Regions from separate parts of the Homo sapiens genome. Here all the other regions are linked to region 2. Evidence: fine-mapped expression QTL. A gene starts in region 2. Each other region holds a variant in brackets. All regions are shown on one strand. Distances are between the middles of the regions.

Region 1 (2,763 bases), 270 kb before region 2:
GGGGTTCCCTCCTGTTCCCAACCCAAGGGCTACATGGAGCACGTTGCCCCAGCCACGCCTCCACTGCTGCAGCGACATCTTTGCAGGAGCTGCTCTAGACAGAATAATACCACCTACCTCATAGGATTATTGTAAGGATTGAGTAAACATGTAAAGTATTTGAAACAGTGCCTAGCTTCACAATCAGCATGTTACAAATATTTGCTATTATTTAAATATTATTGTACGCCTCAGTAGATCTTGAGTTTTGCCCAGTCAGTAAGAGTAGATTCTAAGAATTGCTGAATCATTAAGGTGTAAGTTTTTTAGTTTGAATAGCGACCAAAATAGAATAGAAACCTAAATGCCTAATGACAGGGAATGGATAAAAACTATTATGGCACATACAGTAAGAGCTGTGCAACCATTTAAAATGTTTCTGAAGAAGTTTTAATGATGTAAGATACTATAAGTGAATAGAGCAGGATGCAGATCTGTGTAATGTGATCTTATTTATATGAAGAAGTATATTATAAATAGAAAGCAGACCTAGAAGGAAATATACAAGGTTACTAGTAGGTATCTCTAGGTTGTGGGAATATAACACTTTTTTATACTATTATAGATTTTCCAAAATTTATTCAATAAGCCTGTATTACTTTTATATCCAGAAAAAAAAAAAAGCCCAGCTTATTGGTATAGTAAATTAAGTAAAATTATAATATACATTCCATTTTATCATCTGTTTTTTGCACTTAGCAACACTTGTATTTTGTAATAAGCAAATAACTGATAAAAGCCACAAAGGAAAGGGGGAAGCTTTTAACTTAATATTGCTAAATATCATTTTTATTTTTATTATCTTTCTTATATTTCTTGCCTATAGTTACTTAAAATCTACCAAAATATGAAGACAAGTGACCAAAACATGTGTCCTCATTTCTGATCATTTCTTTTGGTAGCACCCCAGCAGTCAGTGACTACTCTAGAATTGCTTTGGGTCCTAAACGGGGTCCATCTGTTACTGAAAAGGAGGTGCTGACGTGCATCCTTTGCCAAGAAGAACAGGAGGTGAAAATAGAAAATAATGCCATGGTATTATCGGCCTGTGTCCAGAAATCTACTGCCTTAACCCAGCACAGGGGAAAACCCATAGAACTCTCAGGAGGTATGTATTATTTAATAAATATCCTTTTGTGCATTTCTTTTCATGCCTGTGTAATTAAAGAAAATACTATTTGAAAAACATTTGGAAATAAGGGTTATATATCTACCATACCATTATCATATTTAAGAAAGTAATAATAATCCAGGAATATTATCTAATATAAAATCAATTTTTCTCCAACAGTTCTCAAAATGTCTTCAATTCCTAGACTTTTTTTTTCACTTAGGATCCAAACAAACACGTGTTGCTTTGGCTATATTTCCTTTACTCTATTTTAATCCAGATTAGTCCCTCCTTTTTTTATGATAGTAGCTTTTTTGAAGAATTCAGGCCACTTGCTTTGTATAATGT[G/A]TCACATTCTGAATTTATCTGATTGTTAAGTTGCCTCCTGATTAGAATCATGTTAAACATTTTCTTGGCAGGAATGCTAATTAGATAATTTATTGCACTTATTACATCAGGAATTAGCTGCTTTAGCATCATTATTATTTTAAAATATCCTTGGAATAGGCCAGACATGGTGGCTCACGCCTGTAATCCCAGCACTTTGGGAAGCCGGTGTGGGTGGATCACTTGAGCTCAGGAGTTTGAGACCAGCCTAGGCAACATGGCGAAACCTCGTCTTTACAAACATATTAGCCAGGCATGGTTGCATGAGCCTGTGGTCCACAACAGGGTGAGACCCTGTCTCAAAACAAACAAAACAAGCTCCTTGGAATAATAGTGATAATAAAGACTAGCATTTATTGAAAACTTAACATTGCCAGGCACTTGTTAAGTGCTTTATGTGTATTTACTTACTTAATCCTCACAACAGCCCTATGAGTTAGTTATCACTATTAGTTCCATTTTATAGATGAAGGACCTGAGGCACAGAGAGGTCAAGTAACTTACCCATGGCCATGAGTTACAAGTGATGAAACCAGAATTTGAAATCCTCAATCTGTGCTTTTCTTTTCTTTTTTTTTTTTTCTTTTTTTTTTTTTTAGTATTTATTGATCATTCTTGGGTGTTTCTCCGAGAGGGGGATTTGGCAGGGTCATAGGACAATAGTGGAGGGAAGGTCAGCAGATAAACATGTGAACAAGGGTCTCTGGTTTTCCTAGGCAGAGGACCCTGCGGCCTTCCGCAGTGTTTGTGTCCCTGGGTACTTGAGATTAGGGAGTGGTGATGACTCTTAACGAGCATGCTGCCTTCAAGCATCTGTTTAACAAAGCACATCTTGCCCCGCCCTTAATCCATTTAACCCTGAGTGGACACAGCACATGTTTCAGAGAGCACGGGGTTGGGGGTAAGGTTATAGATTAACAGCATCCCAAGGCAGAAGAATTTTTCTTAGTACAGAACAAAATGGAGTCTCCCATGTCTACTTCTTTCTACACAGACACAGTAACAATCTGATCTCTCTCATTTCCCCACATTTCCCCCTTTTCTATTCCACAAAACCGCCATCGTCATCATGGCCCGTTCTCAATGAGCTGTTGGGTACACCTCCCAGACGGGGTGGTGGCCGGGCAGAGGGGCTCCTCACTTCCCAGACGGGGTGGCTGGACAGAGGCGCCCCCCCACCTCCCAGACGGAGCGGCTGGCTGGGCAGGGGCTGCCCCCCCACCTCC
Region 2 (2,763 bases):
CAAAATCCTCTCTCAGGTTTTTTTGTTTTGTTTTGTTTTTGAGATGGAGTCTCGCTCTGTCACCCAGGCTGGAGTGCAGTGGCGTGATCTTGGATCACTGCAACCTCCGCCTCCCAGGTTCAAGCGATTCTCCTGCCTCAGCCTCCCCAGTAGCTAGGACTACAGGCGCGTGCCACCACGCCCAGTTAATTTTTGTATTTTTATTAGAGACACGGTTTCACCATGTTGGCCAGGATGGTCTCCATCTCTCGACCTCGTGATCCGCCCACCTCTGCCTCCCACTGCATTCCAGCCCCGGGGGTGACAGAGCGAGACTCCATCTCAAAATAAAATTAAATAAAGGAGATTAAGAAATTACTCAGGCCGGGCGTGGTGGCCCACGCCTATAATCCCAGCACTTTGGATCTGCTGCCCTCTCCCGGCCAAAACATTAGCTGGGCTATAGCCCTAGGGAGGCTGAGTCGGGAGGATTGCTTGAGCCCAGGAGGCCAAGGCTGCAGTGAGCCGTGCTCACGCCACTGCACTCCAGCCTGGGCAACAGAGCAAGACCCTGTCTCAAAAAAAACAAAACAAAAACAAAAAACACCAAACCCAAAAATACAAACCTCAAGCTCCCAGAAGCTAATCATGATATGCTTACTGACATCTAAACTGCAAAGTAGTTGAAATATTAACCTCATGTAAACCCACTTAAGTAAATAAAGCTACATACAAGCAATTCTGTGTGCAGGGTGGCCCGAGGCACTTTAAGGGTTGTGGCTTGGGGATTATTAAGAACCTCCTAGAAATAATTCTTTCCTAAATGGTCAGTTGATGGTGAGCGCTGAAAAGCCGATGGGTACTGCTCGGCCAAGGGATTGAAAAATCGGCCTTTGAGAAGAACAAAGTCAAAATGAAAGATTAGATTATAATTTCTCTGGGGTGGTGCCAGTTGGATCTAGGAAACTTAAACTCGTGAAAGAATGTGCTTAGAGCAGAAGATAGAAGCTGGTGGCTGTCTCTGCTCCCCTCTACCTCTCTCCCGGGTCCTGGGTCTCCCTAGAGGGGCGTCCGACCCGCGGCAGCCCCACTCCCAGCTCGAATCCCTCCCTTCAGGTCGCTCCAGGGCGGGCAGCCAAGGTGGGCCTCCCCAGGCGCTGTGATCCACATTTCACCTCCTAACAACCGGCCTCTCGGCCGGGGTTGAGGACTCAGCGAGGCCTTGACTCCGTGGGTCTGGGCAACAGCCGGCTCCGCCCCGCCCCGCCAGCCGGGTCCCTCCCCATCCCGCGACCCAACGGTCGTTCCCCGCCGCCGGCCCCGCCCCTCCCTGGCCGCCCGCGGCGCGCCGGCGCCTGCGCAGTCGCCCCAGAGCGCCCCGACCGGGATGGCGGCCGTTTTGGAGTCGCTGCTGCGAGAAGAGGTGTCGGTCGCAGCCGTCGTGCGGTGGATCGCGCGCAGCACCCAGGGTTCGGAGGTAACAGCGGTGACACGCCCCCAGGTCTGACTCGAAGCCGGTTCCCGCAGTGGAGTCCAGCCCTCCAGTCCCCTTCCTCTAGGGCGCCTGGCTGCCAGCCGGGCCGAGTGCACTCCAACTGGGCGCCGCTGCCCGGGCCGCCCACCCGAGGCGCGCCCTACGGCCCCGGCTGCTCACGGCCCGCGGGCCGGCGGCTGACCCTCTCGCCCCTCCACCTGTGCTTCTGCCCTAGGATAACGCTGGGGAGGCGGCCGCGCTGAGCTCACTCCGGGCCCTGCGGAAAGAATTCGTACCGTTCCTGTTGAACTTCCTGAGGGAGCAGAGCAGCCGCGTCCTCCCGCAGGGGCCCCCGACCCCCGCCAAGACCCCGGGCGCCTCGGCAGCCTTGCCAGGGAGGCCGGGAGGCCCGCCGCGGGGTAGCCGCGGGGCGCGCAGCCAGCTTTTCCCTCCGACCGAGGCCCAGAGCACCGCTGCCGAGGCCCCTCTGGCCCGCCGCGGGGGCAGGAGGCGGGGCCCGGGGCCGGCCCGCGAGCGTGGAGGCCGCGGCCTGGAGGAGGGGGTCAGCGGGGAGAGCCTGCCCGGAGCCGGGGGCCGGAGGCTTAGGGGCTCTGGCAGCCCCAGCCGCCCCAGCCTCACGCTGTCTGATCCGCCAAACCTCAGCAACCTGGAGGAGTTCCCTCCCGTAGGCTCGGTTCCCCCCGGCCCTACAGGGTGAGACTCAGCTCTCATGCAGGAGATGGGTACCACGAAGGCTCTGGGGAGTCAGTCATTCGAGCTCGGCGCTCCGCAGTGGAGCGCCAGGATGGGTAGAAGGCTGGGGGTGATGGTGAGGGTTTTTGTGGGGTTTTTTGGCAAGAGGTCTAGCTGTTGCGGTGGTGGAGGGGAGATGTTTGAAGATAGGAATTTGAGAAAAACCTGTGGCTACTCTCAGCAGGACGAAGCCTTCTCGCAGGATCAACCCAACTCCGGTGAGCGAAGAGCGGTCACTCTCCAAGCCCAAGACCTGCTTCACCTCACCCCCAATCAGCTGTGTCCCCAGTTCCCAACCCTCAGCCCTGGACACTAGCCCTTGGGGCCTTGGCCTTCCCCCAGGGTGCAGAAGTCTGCAAGAGGAGCGAGAGATGCTCAGGAAGGAGCGGTATGGCCTGGCCGCTCCTGGGGATATCGGTTTCCTCGCTGTGGGGGATCTTCAGGGGTTTTCCCTGAAATTGATTTCCCTCTTGGGGACTCTGGGTTTGTCTCCTGGGCTGTTGGTATCTTCTCTGGAGTGACCTGAGTGTGGCCGTAGCAGGGAAGCCAAGCTGACT
Region 3 (2,763 bases), 72 kb before region 2:
TTGCAACAGATTTTCCTATTCCTGCATGATTCATTCGGCGTATAGAACTGCTGACAGTTGAAATTATGTAAATTCTATAGCTAATTTGTTGACCAGAAGGAAATGTCCAACTAGGTAATGCATCTGTCAAGGGCTTTAGGGCAGCATATCATATGTTAATATGCTATGGGACAGCGGTCAGTGAAAATTGGCTCCATTTTGCCTGTGGTCAGAGAATCATTTCCTTAGAGCATCAGTTAATGAGCCTTAGAAGGGTTGACTAGGTTTACTACAAATTACATCCCTAACCCCAACCAGCGGTATTTCAGAAGATTCTGTTGCTCTCAGGGAGAATTTGGTCAGGGCTTAATACCTAATAATTGCTACCACTGAAAACATAAATGCGGCCACACATAGATTAATAAGAATATGTATTAGTATATCATCCTTATTTACAAAGGACAATACATAGACTTTACTGCATGTTAATGGTAGTTAAATTCTACAGTGTTGTCAGTGTTGTGCAGTCAAAAGACTAAGAAGTATCTATAGCACAGTAAATGTATTTGCATATAGTAATTATTGCTCTGTGAAATTGCTGCTTTTGTATAAGATACAAACAGGATATAAAGCAAAGAGGCAACATACAGCCTTGAGTCCTTAGAGACCTTAAATTGGTGAGTTTGTCTTCTCATGCATATGCCAATTTGTGTTGTAAGCAATAGGGACTGTCTAACAAATTGAGAAAATACACTGTGTGTGAGTTGTTTTGGAATGTGTTCTTATATTTGTCTTTTGTATGTATTTTCTGAAATGTATACAGTTCACATTACTTAAAGCAATGAAATTATACCTGTAAGACTAGATTCAAGAGGAGCTGAAAATTGTTCCAACTTTCCCATCTTGAGTGCTAATAGTTTCTTATTGACAAAATTTGCTTAGGGGAATTTAGGACAGTAAAAAACTTTGATCACATTCTCTTCTTAAACCTATATCTAAAGAAGACTATCATATTTACCAGCTGAAGTTTGAAACTTAATGATTATTTTAAACTAACAAATTATTGTTCTCAAGTTTTTCAGTTGGACATTCTCCTAAGGGCTTTTCTATCACTTAATAACAAAACAAAGTTTGGTAATTTTCCATTTTTGAAAGAAAGAGAACAGGCATAACATTACTTTGTTTCACAGATTCTGTAAATAATCCAGCTCTTTCCTGCTGTGATCTTTC[C/A]TAAGCAGTGAGTGAGAACAGAGGGCAGGTGGACAGGAGAAGGATAATTGAAAAAAGATGTTATGTAAGTGATGGGTGTGTTCTAATGACTAGTATCAATGTGACATCAGGTTTCAAAAGCCTGAGCTTTGCAGCTTCTGCCTCTTGTTTCTCTACTCAGTCTTCATCTTGAGAAAAATAACTCTACTTTTAATCTGAATGGTCTCGTGAATTCATGCTGTCCCTGTGATTAATTTTACAGTTTGAGATTCATTCCTGAATTTGATTTTACTTACTGTTCTTTCAAGATTTTATTTTCTTCATTTAAAAAAATTTTTTGAGACGGGGTCTCGGTCTGTCAGCAAGGCTAGAGTGCAGTTGGTGCAAACATGGCTCACTGCAGCTTCAACCTCCAAGACTCAAGTGATCCTCCCACTTTAGCCTCCTGAGTAGCTTGATCTACAAGTGTGCACCATGCCTGGCTTTTTTTTTTTATTTTTTTTAAAGCAGAGATGAGGTTTCCCTATGTTGCCCAAGCAGGTCTCAAACTGGCCTCAAGCAATCCTTCTGCCTTGGCCTCACAAAGTGCTGAAATAGCCAGCATGAAGCCACCATACCTGGTCTTTTCTTTCAAAATTTTAGGTTTCTCATGGGACAACCAATAAAGTTAAAAAAAACAATAAACCTCCTCCAGCAACAAGCAAAAAGCATATCCATATTAAATATGACTGCTTCCCTAGCTACATCAAAGGTCAAATAGCAATGATATGTTTCCAGCTTTGTCTATTCTGAGCTAAGACCAAAGTCAGTTTTTTTGTTATAATCAAAGTGTTAAATGATGCAGTTTTACAGAGCCACTTTCACTTTGTGTATATTTTATAAATCTTTAAAAATTGGAATATCTTGCCATAGAATATTATTACTTCAACACGTTGCACATGGCCAACACCTCATCCAATAGCTGCTGCTGTTCACTTTGACATCAGTTGTGGACCTAGAGAGAGTAGCTATTTTGTTTTCTACCAGGAATCTTTCATGTGTCTCTCACTTTACAGTAAAGGTCGAAATTTGCTTTTGAGAAGTATTATATTATTTTGGGAAATTACATCAAGTTTATCTGTACTTAGTATTTATGTATGAGTCTGTTTTCCTAACTAGCTTTTAAATCCTGGAGAAACAGCCATGTCTTATTTTTTTAACCCCATATTACACCTGGCACCTAAATTTTCAACAAATGTTAGGCAAATTTAATTAAGTCTTTACTTTGGATCAACAGTCTCCTACACAGAGAATACAAGAAAAATTAACCCTATAAGTGCATAAATAATGTTTTCTGTCTGTTAAAATAAATGTGAAGATATCAGAATTATAAACAAGATTAAAGCAGATATGTTCCTATAAATATTGTTTTTGTCAGATTCTGAATATTATAACAACTATAAGAGACAGAGTGGGCCAAGCACAGTGGTTCATGCTTGTAATCTCAGCACCTTGGGCGATTGAGGCAGGAGTATCACTTGAGGCCAGGAGTTTGAGACCAGCCTGGGCAACATAGTAACACCCTGTTTCTACAAA

The links.
Region 1: its variant is fine-mapped to the expression of CDAN1 in whole blood (TOPMed, PIP above 0.99).
Region 3: its variant is fine-mapped to the expression of CDAN1 in whole blood (TOPMed, PIP 0.99).

The regions. Positions count from the first base shown.
Region 1 is chr15:43,005,463-43,008,225 of GRCh38, reverse strand. UBR1 (ubiquitin protein ligase E3 component n-recognin 1) reads left to right here. Exons shown (of 47, transcript NM_174916.3): 30 at 942-1,147. Among named protein-coding and RNA genes, the nearest start is that of TTBK2, 86 kb to the right of the region's middle. The variant G/A (reference allele first, on the strand shown) is at 1,499.
Region 2 is chr15:42,735,706-42,738,468 of GRCh38, reverse strand. It overlaps CDAN1 (codanin 1), which reads left to right and starts at 1,341. Exons shown (of 28, transcript NM_138477.4): 1 at 1,341-1,456; 2 at 1,689-2,167; 3 at 2,391-2,594. The coding sequence starts at 1,367. RefSeq lists silencers at 1,155-1,404, 1,595-1,734, 1,825-2,114.
Region 3 is chr15:42,807,615-42,810,377 of GRCh38, reverse strand. All of the region lies in intron 9 of TTBK2 (tau tubulin kinase 2), which reads left to right. Among named protein-coding and RNA genes, the nearest start is that of TTBK2-AS1, 70 kb to the right of the region's middle. The variant C/A (reference allele first, on the strand shown) is at 1,210.